Linked DNA regions of Homo sapiens. The protein of the gene in region 2 purifies or fractionates together with the protein of the main gene of each other region. This does not show direct contact. Each region holds a gene or a part of one and is shown on either strand. Other genes may lie near its edges.

The links. The genes of interacting proteins can lie anywhere in the genome.
Region 1: the proteins of FLT1 (region 2) and LANCL1 purify together in Homo sapiens (affinity purification with mass spectrometry; one large-scale study listed by BioGRID and IntAct). This does not show direct contact.

The regions. Positions count from the first base shown.
Region 1 is NC_000002.12:210,451,614-210,456,720, reverse strand, and holds part of LANCL1 (glutathione S-transferase LANCL1), read left to right. Parts: intron 1-1,406; coding exon 1,407-1,614; intron 1,615-5,107. UniProt on the Homo sapiens protein: Functions as a glutathione transferase. Catalyzes conjugation of the glutathione (GSH) to artificial substrates 1-chloro-2,4-dinitrobenzene (CDNB) and p-nitrophenyl acetate.
Region 2 is NC_000013.11:28,491,222-28,497,052, reverse strand, and holds the start of FLT1 (vascular endothelial growth factor receptor 1 isoform 1 precursor), read left to right. Parts: upstream 1-1,924; 5' UTR 1,925-2,209; coding exon 2,210-2,273; intron 2,274-5,831. UniProt on the Homo sapiens protein: Tyrosine-protein kinase that acts as a cell-surface receptor for VEGFA, VEGFB and PGF, and plays an essential role in the development of embryonic vasculature, the regulation of angiogenesis, cell survival, cell migration, macrophage function, chemotaxis, and cancer cell invasion.

The sequences.
Region 1 (5,107 bases), on a different chromosome or scaffold from region 2:
GGAGGGCAAAATGAAAGGTTAACAATTTAAATGGATCACCTGCAGATGCGTGATATGGATGGAGATGAAGCCTATTAAGGACCTAATTTTAGAAGAAGCTCTTGACATCAATCATTTGTGAAAAGGGTTTTTTTTTTTTTCTTACCTACACACAAGGTTTTGTACACTTGTCTACAAACCTTAAGCATTGATGCATCTGATCATCAGCTTGTGGGATTACTAACACCAAGCCACTTTGAAAGAGCAGTCAAGGTTATTAACTTTGGCAGGAAATGAAAATTTGGCCTTAATATACATGTGAAATTGAATTGTCTGTAGCACAAAGCTTTGGAGATTACCCATGCAAAATGAGAAAACTATCTAAATTTAAAATTGTCCTCAGTACAGGGAAAGTAATTTTGCAGACAGCATTTTTACTGCATTGAAATCCGTGAAGATTGGCTCTATTAATTTAAATTTAAACAGAGGTTCTGTGTCTTCTAAAAATCGCAAATGAGATGGAAAATGTACTTCAAGGGAAAAAATGGGTTTCTGGATATGCTGCAGGCAGGCAGGCAGGCTTCCTACTCCACATCTTTGAGTCTGCCCTGAGACCAGTTAGCTTCAGAGGGAAGGCTCTTTCCACTGTGACAGGCATTTGAAATAAGGACATGCAGACAATGCCTCTATTACATATTTCAGGCTTCAAGAGTAGGGTAAGAAACTGATCAAGTAGAGCCCAAGGCAAAAGTCATTGGTGGCTTTTACATTACATTTACCAAAGTAGGTGGGCCCTCGACAGAAAAAAATCTAGGGGTTGAATATTTTTTCTCAGCTATCAAATAACTTTCTTATAATCCCTGCCTGGAAGGATACTGGGGCAGGGGATTTGGTTACATTAACTACCTTTTCACAAAAAAAAAAAAAAAAACACACACACACACAAAACAAACTTTTACGTAAAGAGAAATTGAAATTTTCATTCCCTGGTCTTTGAATTTCTTTAGTTCACAACAAACCCTTTCTTATTAAATAATTATTGGTAAATCAATTACATTTATTTGGAACCCTAGTTTAATGACACATCATTTCGACATCAAGAAGAATACATTAACACAATAACCAGAGTACAACAAAGACTAATAATAGGCTGTGTGTCTCTTTATTGGCCAGAGCCTTAGAGACCTTATTATTTAATAGAGTTGTCATAATGAGGAAACTGAGGACAAGTAAGTGGTTGGCTTATGCTGGTTCGTAGAGTTGCTTACTAATAGAGCTGAGCCTAGAATTAAAGTCACCCAAACTTCCAGATCATTAATAAATTTGCTACAGGTTATCAAAAATCGCTGCTGAGTAGACACCATGCCAAAAATAATAAAATAACTGCCTTTCCTCATCTTTACATTGTTTCCTTTTTTTTTTTTCAGGTATTGCTGTGCTTTACTTACATCTTTATGATGTATTTGGGGACCCTGCCTACCTACAGTTAGCACATGGCTATGTAAAGCAAAGTCTGAACTGCTTAACCAAGCGCTCCATCACCTTCCTTTGTGGGGATGCAGGCCCCCTGGCAGTGGCCGCTGTGCTATATCACAAGATGAACAATGAGAAGCAGGCAGAAGATTGCATCACACGGTAATCATGTTTCTATATGAGGATTATTTTCTAGCATCATTATGCATTAATTCTGCATGTGTTAACAAAAGAACATTCTAGTGAGTTTACTTTTCTCTTAGCAGATAAATCTCACTGCTGTCATTTGATCAATTGTCATATTCCTGTGTTGTAGTTAAGGAACAACGATTATAATCCCTATTTTAGTGCAAGATAAAAGACACTGTCATGTTCCAGATTAAACATCAGTTCAATAATGTAAATGAGATCGAAAGCCTTAACATATGATTACTAATCCAAAGTGCTATCCAAGATCTGTAATTCAAGGAAATGCAGTTCAGTTCCTACAGGTGGGCTGGGAGAGTCCTTCTAAGGGACCACAGACTGATTCAAAACGGCCTTTCTTAGAGGCAATGACATGCACATCCTGATTTTCATTTTGGTATAAATTATGGTGGTCCACTAGAAGCTGGTGAATTATGAAGAATTATTAAATGTTTGTACTAATAGACTTTAATTGTTGCCTTACCAGAGTTTATTAAGCACTCTTTCGGAGTTCTAAGAACCCTGGCTGCCGTGCAACTCTGCATGCATCGCTCTTAGGCTCCACTGCGCGTGCTAACACTCCAGCAACGTTTTAACCAGTGACTGTCCCTGAGTTGACCATGGTGTTTGATTCCCACTATTCTTTCTTATAGATTACTGTTAGGATGGCATTACCATCACCAATTTAGTTTGTCTAGGATCCGTTGGCTAATCTTATACTGTTTGCTGGTGTATATTTAAACAACAGGCTTTTTGGACTTTTTAAGATATCATAGTGCTGTATTCAAAAAAGGAATGATTTATACCCCTATTGTTTAGGCGTGTGTGTGTGTGTGTGTGTGTGTGTGTGTGTGTGTGTGTGTATGTATGCATATCTCCCTTCTCTCCCAATTTTTTCCCATGCAGTGATATTTTCTTATTGTAACTAACTTTTTCCACTGGAAAGTGTAACAAAAAGAAGGGGTGGGAGTCTTGCTCCACCCAAAATGATTTGGGAATCATTATATTGGATCATTTTCTGAATTGACGTATTCTTCAAAACACCTTTTTTTAAATACATGCCTATGCTACATTTCTTAGGGGCTAGACATTACATAGTATAACTTTAAAAACACATTACTTAGTGTGTCTAGAGGAAAAAAACTGAACATTCCACTCCAGAGCTGAGAAGCTTTTAATATAAAACCTGTCACCAAGCTCGACCAAAATGAAAGATGAAACAAAACAGTGATTTCCCCCAAAGTTTAAAGTGTGTTCCTTCCATAGTAGCTGACTTGCATAAGACTTGCCAATACAAAAACTGTTCCATACTCACCTAAATTTGAAACACAGAGACTACCTTTTAATTTTTTTTACATAGCTGATGTTTAAAGCCATCAGCCAACAACTGCTTTAGAGGTCCACAAGATACTCTCATTCAGTGAATCACTTGTTAAGTACCATCAGATAAATTGTAGTGCTCCCAATATTCTATATATAATGCCAGCCTTTCCATAATACATGCAGCCACATTTTAATAGTTTGCTATGTGAGAAATGTTAATGTGTTCAATGAGACCAAGATTCATAGATTCAAACAGATGGGAATTTGTATCAAAGCACTAATTAAACAAAATTAAATATGTGTCTTTACCGGCTGCTTAGCTTCTTCTGTAGCTTGTATACCTGGGGACAACACGCCAACTCTAGGGAGCAGCACTTGCCAATGTTAACTCACCTATACAACCCTCTTCTTCATGAAATCTTGAGGGCCTATTCTAACACACTCTTTGGGAAATGGTACAATATCAATATTAGTGTATTAAAATGCTCCTAAGAGTATGCTAAGATTTTTGTTGTTTTTGGTATATTGGTACTAAGGGTGTTGTTGTCATTTACCTTTTTAAATTTTGACATTTCGACAGTATTTATAGCCAGTAGGCTTGTTAAGGTTAAAAATATAGTATGTGAATATAATAGGAAAATACACTATTTGTGGCTATAGCTTTGATTTTTTTCAGATTTTTTATTTTATACAAAACAGAAAAAGAATGACTTGGAATGATTTGTAAGTTACGGAGTTTGCTTTATCTTTTCAAAGGAAAAATCTAGAAATTTGACTTAATTTCAAGAAATCCAAAATTATTTAATATAAGTTATTTAGTAAACCTCCTTTAACTTTTTACTAAACCTTTTTTCTCATTTTACAGACCTTTTGAGATCCCACGCTCACATTCTCTGTGTACTGCCTTTGTTGTGCTTCATTGCCAACATCATGTTCTAGCTAGCTTGCTTTTTCTACATTTTCTTAATGTAATGTTCTTTCAAAAGCATAATTTTTAAGTTTTAGAGACCAGACAGTCCTTTGAGATCATCAAAAGTCTAATCCTTACAGAAATTGAAATCCAAGGAAATCAGTGTTTCCCTATAGTACATATTCTTAACCTTGGGCCAGAATCTTAGGGTTTCTGGCAGTGTATAAAACCCCCAAATTATATTCAAGGAGGGAGCATTTGTGCTTTTCTTAAAGGGATCTATAACTCCCCAAAAGGAGGGTGTGTGTGTGTATGTTCATGTTCAAATTGTCCTACAAATGGCTGGGGAGTGGAGGGGAGGACAATACATTGCATTAATTTGTTCTACTGCCTGATACATATCAGATCTGTTTTCATCCCACCCACTTCTACACATCAGTGCCACAACATGAATAAAGTGTGTTGCCTGTTCCCAATTAGATGGCTAACCTAACATTTATAGTGCTTTGGGGCCAGTACTTAGAATGATGAAGCGCTCTGGCTTTCTGGTCCAGAAATATATAACCTCCCTTCTTGTAGTGTGACGAGTCAGTAATGGACATCTTTTTTTTTTTTTTAATAAGCAGAAAAGGGATTTAAAAATATTTATTGTGGTAAAATATACATAACATAAAATTTGCAATTTAACCATTTTTAAATGTACAGTTCATTGGCATTAATTATATTCACAGTGTTGTACAACCATCAGCACTATTTATTTTCAAAAAATGTTTTATTACTCCAACAGAAACTGTACCCATTAAAAAGTAATTCCCCATACCCCCATACCATCATCCCCTGGTAATCTATATTCTACTTTTTCTATGAATTTGCTTATTTTACGTATTTTATATAAGTGGATTATACATTTGTTCTTTTGTGTCTGGCTTACTCCATTTAGCATAGTGTCTTCAAGGTTTATCTACGTTATAGAATGTATCAAAACTTTGTTCCTTTCAATGACTGAATAATATTCCATTATATGTATATACCACATTTCTTTTTTATCTCAGAAAAGGAATTTTTAAAAGGCTATTTAGTAGGTTCTGGAGAAGGAAGCCTGGAGCCTATATAGCCAGTGTGGGGCTGTGAGTGCTATGGGGGCTTTGGAATTCCAGCTGCACTCCCTACTGTGTGATCTTGGGTAAATTACTCTAAACCTTAGTCTCTCATTTGTAAAATAGAGATAAGGAATGT
Region 2 (5,831 bases):
TTGAAAAAATGTATTAGCAAATTAAACCTTTGTACATGGTACTATGGACCACTTTCCCCCAGAGTCAAATGTGTGTCTCTCCTGAGAAGCCCTCCTTGGGTTTTCCCTGCCAATAAATGTGCCTTTACTTCTCTGAGCTGATGGAGGACTAAACACCCCTCCAGCACTGGAATGCCGGTCCTGCAGCCACTTCAAGTGTCCACCTTCTTATCACAGTCCAAGCCCTTTAGAAGGCAAAGATGATGGCTCTCCATCAGTGTTTTCAGCCCTAACCCAATGCCTGGCCCCTGTTGAATGCTGCAGAAGGACAATGCTGACAGCTTCTCCTTGAAAGAGGGTGTGGGAGTGACAAGCAGCTCTCAGGTGAGACCAACAGACACTGTGGCTCCGCACGTATGTCCCAGGCTGTGTTCTGGGCTGGGGGACCAGCAAGGAGAAGGATCAGCTGTCCGCTTCCAGCTGTTCTGAGGGATGATGCTGTGGGTTTTAGAGGAGGCAGGGGTGCGGGAGGCAGAGAAAGGCGCCAGGAAGAGTGGTGAGGAGAACTGGAAAAACAGAAAGCGCTGGTGAAGCCAGCAGGCAAGCAATGACTCCGGCAGTCTTCCTTGCCTCTGAAGCAGAAGGGATCCAGGGACAGTTAGTGGCTCAGGTCCTGCGGCTCCAGGTGCCCAGACGTGCATTTCCTGTGTGGAGTGGCCGGGGCCTCTCCTTGGTGTGCAGCCCAGAAATGTGGCAACTTTGGGTTACCCAACCTTCCTAGGCGGGGAGGTAGTCCAGTCCTTCAGGAAGAGTCTCTGGCTCCGTTCAAGAGCCATCACAGTCCCTTGTATTACATCCCTCTGACGGGTTCCAATAGGACTATTTTTCAAATCTGCGGTATTTACAGAGACAAGACTGGGCTGCTCCGTGCAGCCAGGACGACTTCAGCCTTTGAGGTAATGGAGACATAATTGAGGAACAACGTGGAATTAGTGTCATAGCAAATGATCTAGGGCCTCAAGTTAATTTCAGCCGGTTGTGGTCAGAGTCACTCATCTTGAGTAGCAAGCTGCCACCAGAAAGATTTCTTTTTCGAGCATTTAGGGAATAAAGTTCAAGTGCCCTGCGCTTCCAAGTTGCAGGAGCAGTTTCACGCCTCAGCTTTTTAAAGGTATCATAATGTTATTCCTTGTTTTGCTTCTAGGAAGCAGAAGACTGAGGAAATGACTTGGGCGGGTGCATCAATGCGGCCGAAAAAGACACGGACACGCTCCCCTGGGACCTGAGCTGGTTCGCAGTCTTCCCAAAGGTGCCAAGCAAGCGTCAGTTCCCCTCAGGCGCTCCAGGTTCAGTGCCTTGTGCCGAGGGTCTCCGGTGCCTTCCTAGACTTCTCGGGACAGTCTGAAGGGGTCAGGAGCGGCGGGACAGCGCGGGAAGAGCAGGCAAGGGGAGACAGCCGGACTGCGCCTCAGTCCTCCGTGCCAAGAACACCGTCGCGGAGGCGCGGCCAGCTTCCCTTGGATCGGACTTTCCGCCCCTAGGGCCAGGCGGCGGAGCTTCAGCCTTGTCCCTTCCCCAGTTTCGGGCGGCCCCCAGAGCTGAGTAAGCCGGGTGGAGGGAGTCTGCAAGGATTTCCTGAGCGCGATGGGCAGGAGGAGGGGCAAGGGCAAGAGGGCGCGGAGCAAAGACCCTGAACCTGCCGGGGCCGCGCTCCCGGGCCCGCGTCGCCAGCACCTCCCCACGCGCGCTCGGCCCCGGGCCACCCGCCCTCGTCGGCCCCCGCCCCTCTCCGTAGCCGCAGGGAAGCGAGCCTGGGAGGAAGAAGAGGGTAGGTGGGGAGGCGGATGAGGGGTGGGGGACCCCTTGACGTCACCAGAAGGAGGTGCCGGGGTAGGAAGTGGGCTGGGGAAAGGTTATAAATCGCCCCCGCCCTCGGCTGCTCTTCATCGAGGTCCGCGGGAGGCTCGGAGCGCGCCAGGCGGACACTCCTCTCGGCTCCTCCCCGGCAGCGGCGGCGGCTCGGAGCGGGCTCCGGGGCTCGGGTGCAGCGGCCAGCGGGCGCCTGGCGGCGAGGATTACCCGGGGAAGTGGTTGTCTCCTGGCTGGAGCCGCGAGACGGGCGCTCAGGGCGCGGGGCCGGCGGCGGCGAACGAGAGGACGGACTCTGGCGGCCGGGTCGTTGGCCGCGGGGAGCGCGGGCACCGGGCGAGCAGGCCGCGTCGCGCTCACCATGGTCAGCTACTGGGACACCGGGGTCCTGCTGTGCGCGCTGCTCAGCTGTCTGCTTCTCACAGGTGAGGCGCGGCTGGGGGCCGGGGCCTGAGGCGGGCTGCGATGGGGCGGCCGGAGGGCAGAGCCTCCGAGGCCAGGGCGGGGTGCACGCGGGGAGACGAGGCTGTAGCCCGGAGAAGCTGGCTACGGCGAGAACCTGGGACACTAGTTGCAGCGGGCACGCTTGGGGCCGCTGCGCCCTTTCTCCGAGGGAGCGCCTCGAGGAGTGGCTGGCCTGGACCCGCGAGCATCAGCGCTCAGACCGGGTCCGCGCTGGGGCTGTCCGTTTGCGACAGGATCGCTGATCCCTTATCCAGCTGTCGGGTTGGGGTCTCACTGCCGAGGCCCTGGGCACTAGGAGCAGCACGCACCGGGACCTGCCTGGCACCCAGAGCCCATTCCCAGAGGACCTGGGGCAGGTACGCAGGGTCCCCCGGAGCCGGGAGCAGAGGCTCCTGAAAGCCTGCCAGGCTGCCCGGGGCTGGGCTGAGGCCGGGACTTTGGTGATATTGGGCACTGGCCGCGACCTCGCGTCACGAGAGTGTAGGAGGGGAGCCGATTTGGAGGGGACTCGTGCCTGCGGGGGAGCAGGAGGATCTCAGGAGAGGGCCAGCGCCGGCATCCCATGACCCGCTTGAGTCCCCAAGCCGGACTGTCCCGGGGAACGCTCGGCGAGCGCCCGCTCCTCCCCGCCGCTCTCGGACCGCGGGGCCCCAGTGCGCTGCGCTCAGCCACCCGGGTGGGGCCTCTGCCGGGAGCAGGCGTGGTGCGCGGTCCAGTCCGTGTCGCGGACATCAGTGACCCTGACCCACAAGGGCAGCCCAGGGCCCAAATACCGTTAACTTACTGACTTACAAGCCTAGCCTTTAAAATCCGAGCGAAGAGAGGGCGGGCGATTTTGACCAAACGATGTGGTTTGAGGAATCGATGAGGTCCGCCCGCCACCTAAGTCAGCCTTCGCTGGGCGTTTGGGAGACGGGCGGTGGAACAGTCAGGGGCCGGGGGTTTTACCAGCAGTTAGACCGCCGCCATTGAGGGGTCAAAGCCCCGAGGAACTTGAGGGTTCGGACTCGCAGTCTCTGCTCAGTGGGGCTGAGTGGCGGAGATTTGTGCCTCGTTCCCCTGGGCGCAGAGAGCCAGATTTCGGAGCGCCTTTCTTTTAAGCATCGTGGAGAAAAGGTAAAATATGAAATAAAATATAGTAATATAAAATAAGTCATTGCAATGATTCCCGGGAAGAAAAGTCAATAGGATGGAGCGTAGTACAACAACAACAACAACAAAAAGCTTGTTAAACCCAAAAAGCAGTAATAATTAAATATTCTTTCTCAGTGGGAAGACTAACTAGACCGTCAGTTTCCAAGTAACAAGTAATAGTTCCAATTAGATTGGAGAAACTACTAAACCCGGAGACAGGGCGAAGTGGTAACTTCTGAGAACTCACTGTAGGTTGGGAAAGGTGCTAACATAACTATATTAAATAAAATGTTGTATTTTCTATTTCACAAATACATTTTTTGTTTTGAAAAGTCACTTGTATTAAAATATAATTGCTTAGAGAATTTAAATACCTCACTCGACTATTATGTAAAGATAAATCTAGCTAAATTACATGAATCTAAAATTACGGAGGGAAAAGTACGTGATTTATTAGATTTTCTGCTTCACATAATTATATCTTTATTTTGAAAACATGCTGACTTTAGTGAAGCATCGTTTTCTTTGTAATTGGAAGCATCTTAGATCAGTGGAAACTTTACAGAAATGTGAGTGGGATCCTCTTGTGATTTTTCTTAGATTATAATTTACTTAAATGGGGCAGCAGTTTTGCAACTCTGAATTTCTTTTTTTTTTTTATTTGCACTTTTTTGGGAAGAAAGGACTAACATTGGCAAGCTGAGAACCTCTTTACCTAACAGTTAACAGAACACTCTGTTAGTTCATGTTAGCTCAGTCGGCATCATGGGTGCTTTTGAAAACTCATAGTTTCTCTGTCTGGTTAACAAGCATCTCACAGTAAAACAATCAGCTACCGCCTACTTTACAAACCGCATCAGGGCTTTCATGCTCAACTGAGAGGCTGCATATCCGGGAAGCAATGTCTAGTAAGAAGCCACGGTTCCCCACTGCAGAGTTCTCTTGCGTCATTATGAACCTGGGTCTGCCTTCCTTCAGGTACTATGTAATCTTTGAATACTTATCAGCTATTAATATTCTGTGTGTGTGCATGCCTGGTGTGCACATGCATTGAGAGGTAAAATAACCAGAGGCTCAGTATTACAAAAAGATAATGCCTTTCCCCTCTAAAGCGCTTATTTACCTCTTCCAGACATTCTGGGAAATAAAAAGATGCCAATAATTCAGATACTTTCAAGTCCTCTCTATTGCTCTTTCTCTATAAAGGATACCAGTCCTCTTTCTCCAGCTCTGAGTCTCATTTCTTACTTTTAAGGTATCACAACCTGGATGAAAGCTACAGACCTTTTTCTTTGCCCTCATTTTTCTTGAGTTCTTGAACAGCTAACATTTACAATTTACTATAACTAAGTGGAAATACTGAAATTGTGAATTTTGTGAAGGAAGTCCATATTAATAATATTAAATCAAAGTGCACATGAAAATACCTATTTCAAATTGAATGTAATAAATCTCTTATAATAAAGTTAATTTTTTGTAACAATTTTTGTTGTTTTCTCCAAGGTTTTATGAAGCTGCACTTTTTTTTGGTCTAAATTGCATATTCGAAATATTAATTATTTAGGAGCTTTGGCAGCCTACAGTTTTCCAACTGAAGCATCATGTTACAAAGGAACTGTAGGTGACTACTTACTCCAGTTCCTCAAATATTGTTGCTTACTATTTTAGCACTTTGTTACATTTTTAAAATTTCCCTGTTGGACATTCTATAATAGGCTATCTGGTTTCTTTTCTAACGATCACCAAGTGGGTACTTTGTTTTCGTATGTAAAATGAAGACGTTAGTATAGGTGGTTGATTTCTAAGGCCCTTTTCTGACTCCAAAATTCAATGAATGATTCCAAGAAATGGCCTGAACACCGTGTCTGTCTTTCTCTTTTCTCTTCCCCACCTTATTTATATTTGTATATAGAGTGGATGAGAAACCATATGATGCTGGGGCTGTTAGGATGAACTGGGTTTCCCCTGCTAATCACATTAAACTTTCTTTTTCTTTAGTAGCATGTACCTAAACAGCCAGTCAATTTGGCCTTGAATAGGCTGTTTTGGAAGAGATGGGCTGGTAGAGGATGCCTGAGCCAGCAGTCATCTTTATCTTGGGCTTTTTTCACTAGCAGAATGTATAACTCTATAAAGTAGATGCTCCCTCAAAACTCTAGTTGCATTAACTCTTCTAAGGATAGCAGTCATTTTAAACCCCTATTTATTTCTTGAATTTTTAAAGCTAACACTTATTTGATTAACAGAATGGCTTTATTCTTTTAAAAAAAGTTCCAGATTTTAACAGGGATACTAAACCCCTTATTTAAAATTGAGTCTACTTTACGTGACTTTTAAGAAACAAACCAAGTAATTACTTTGTTCTTTCCAAAAATGATCGAGAC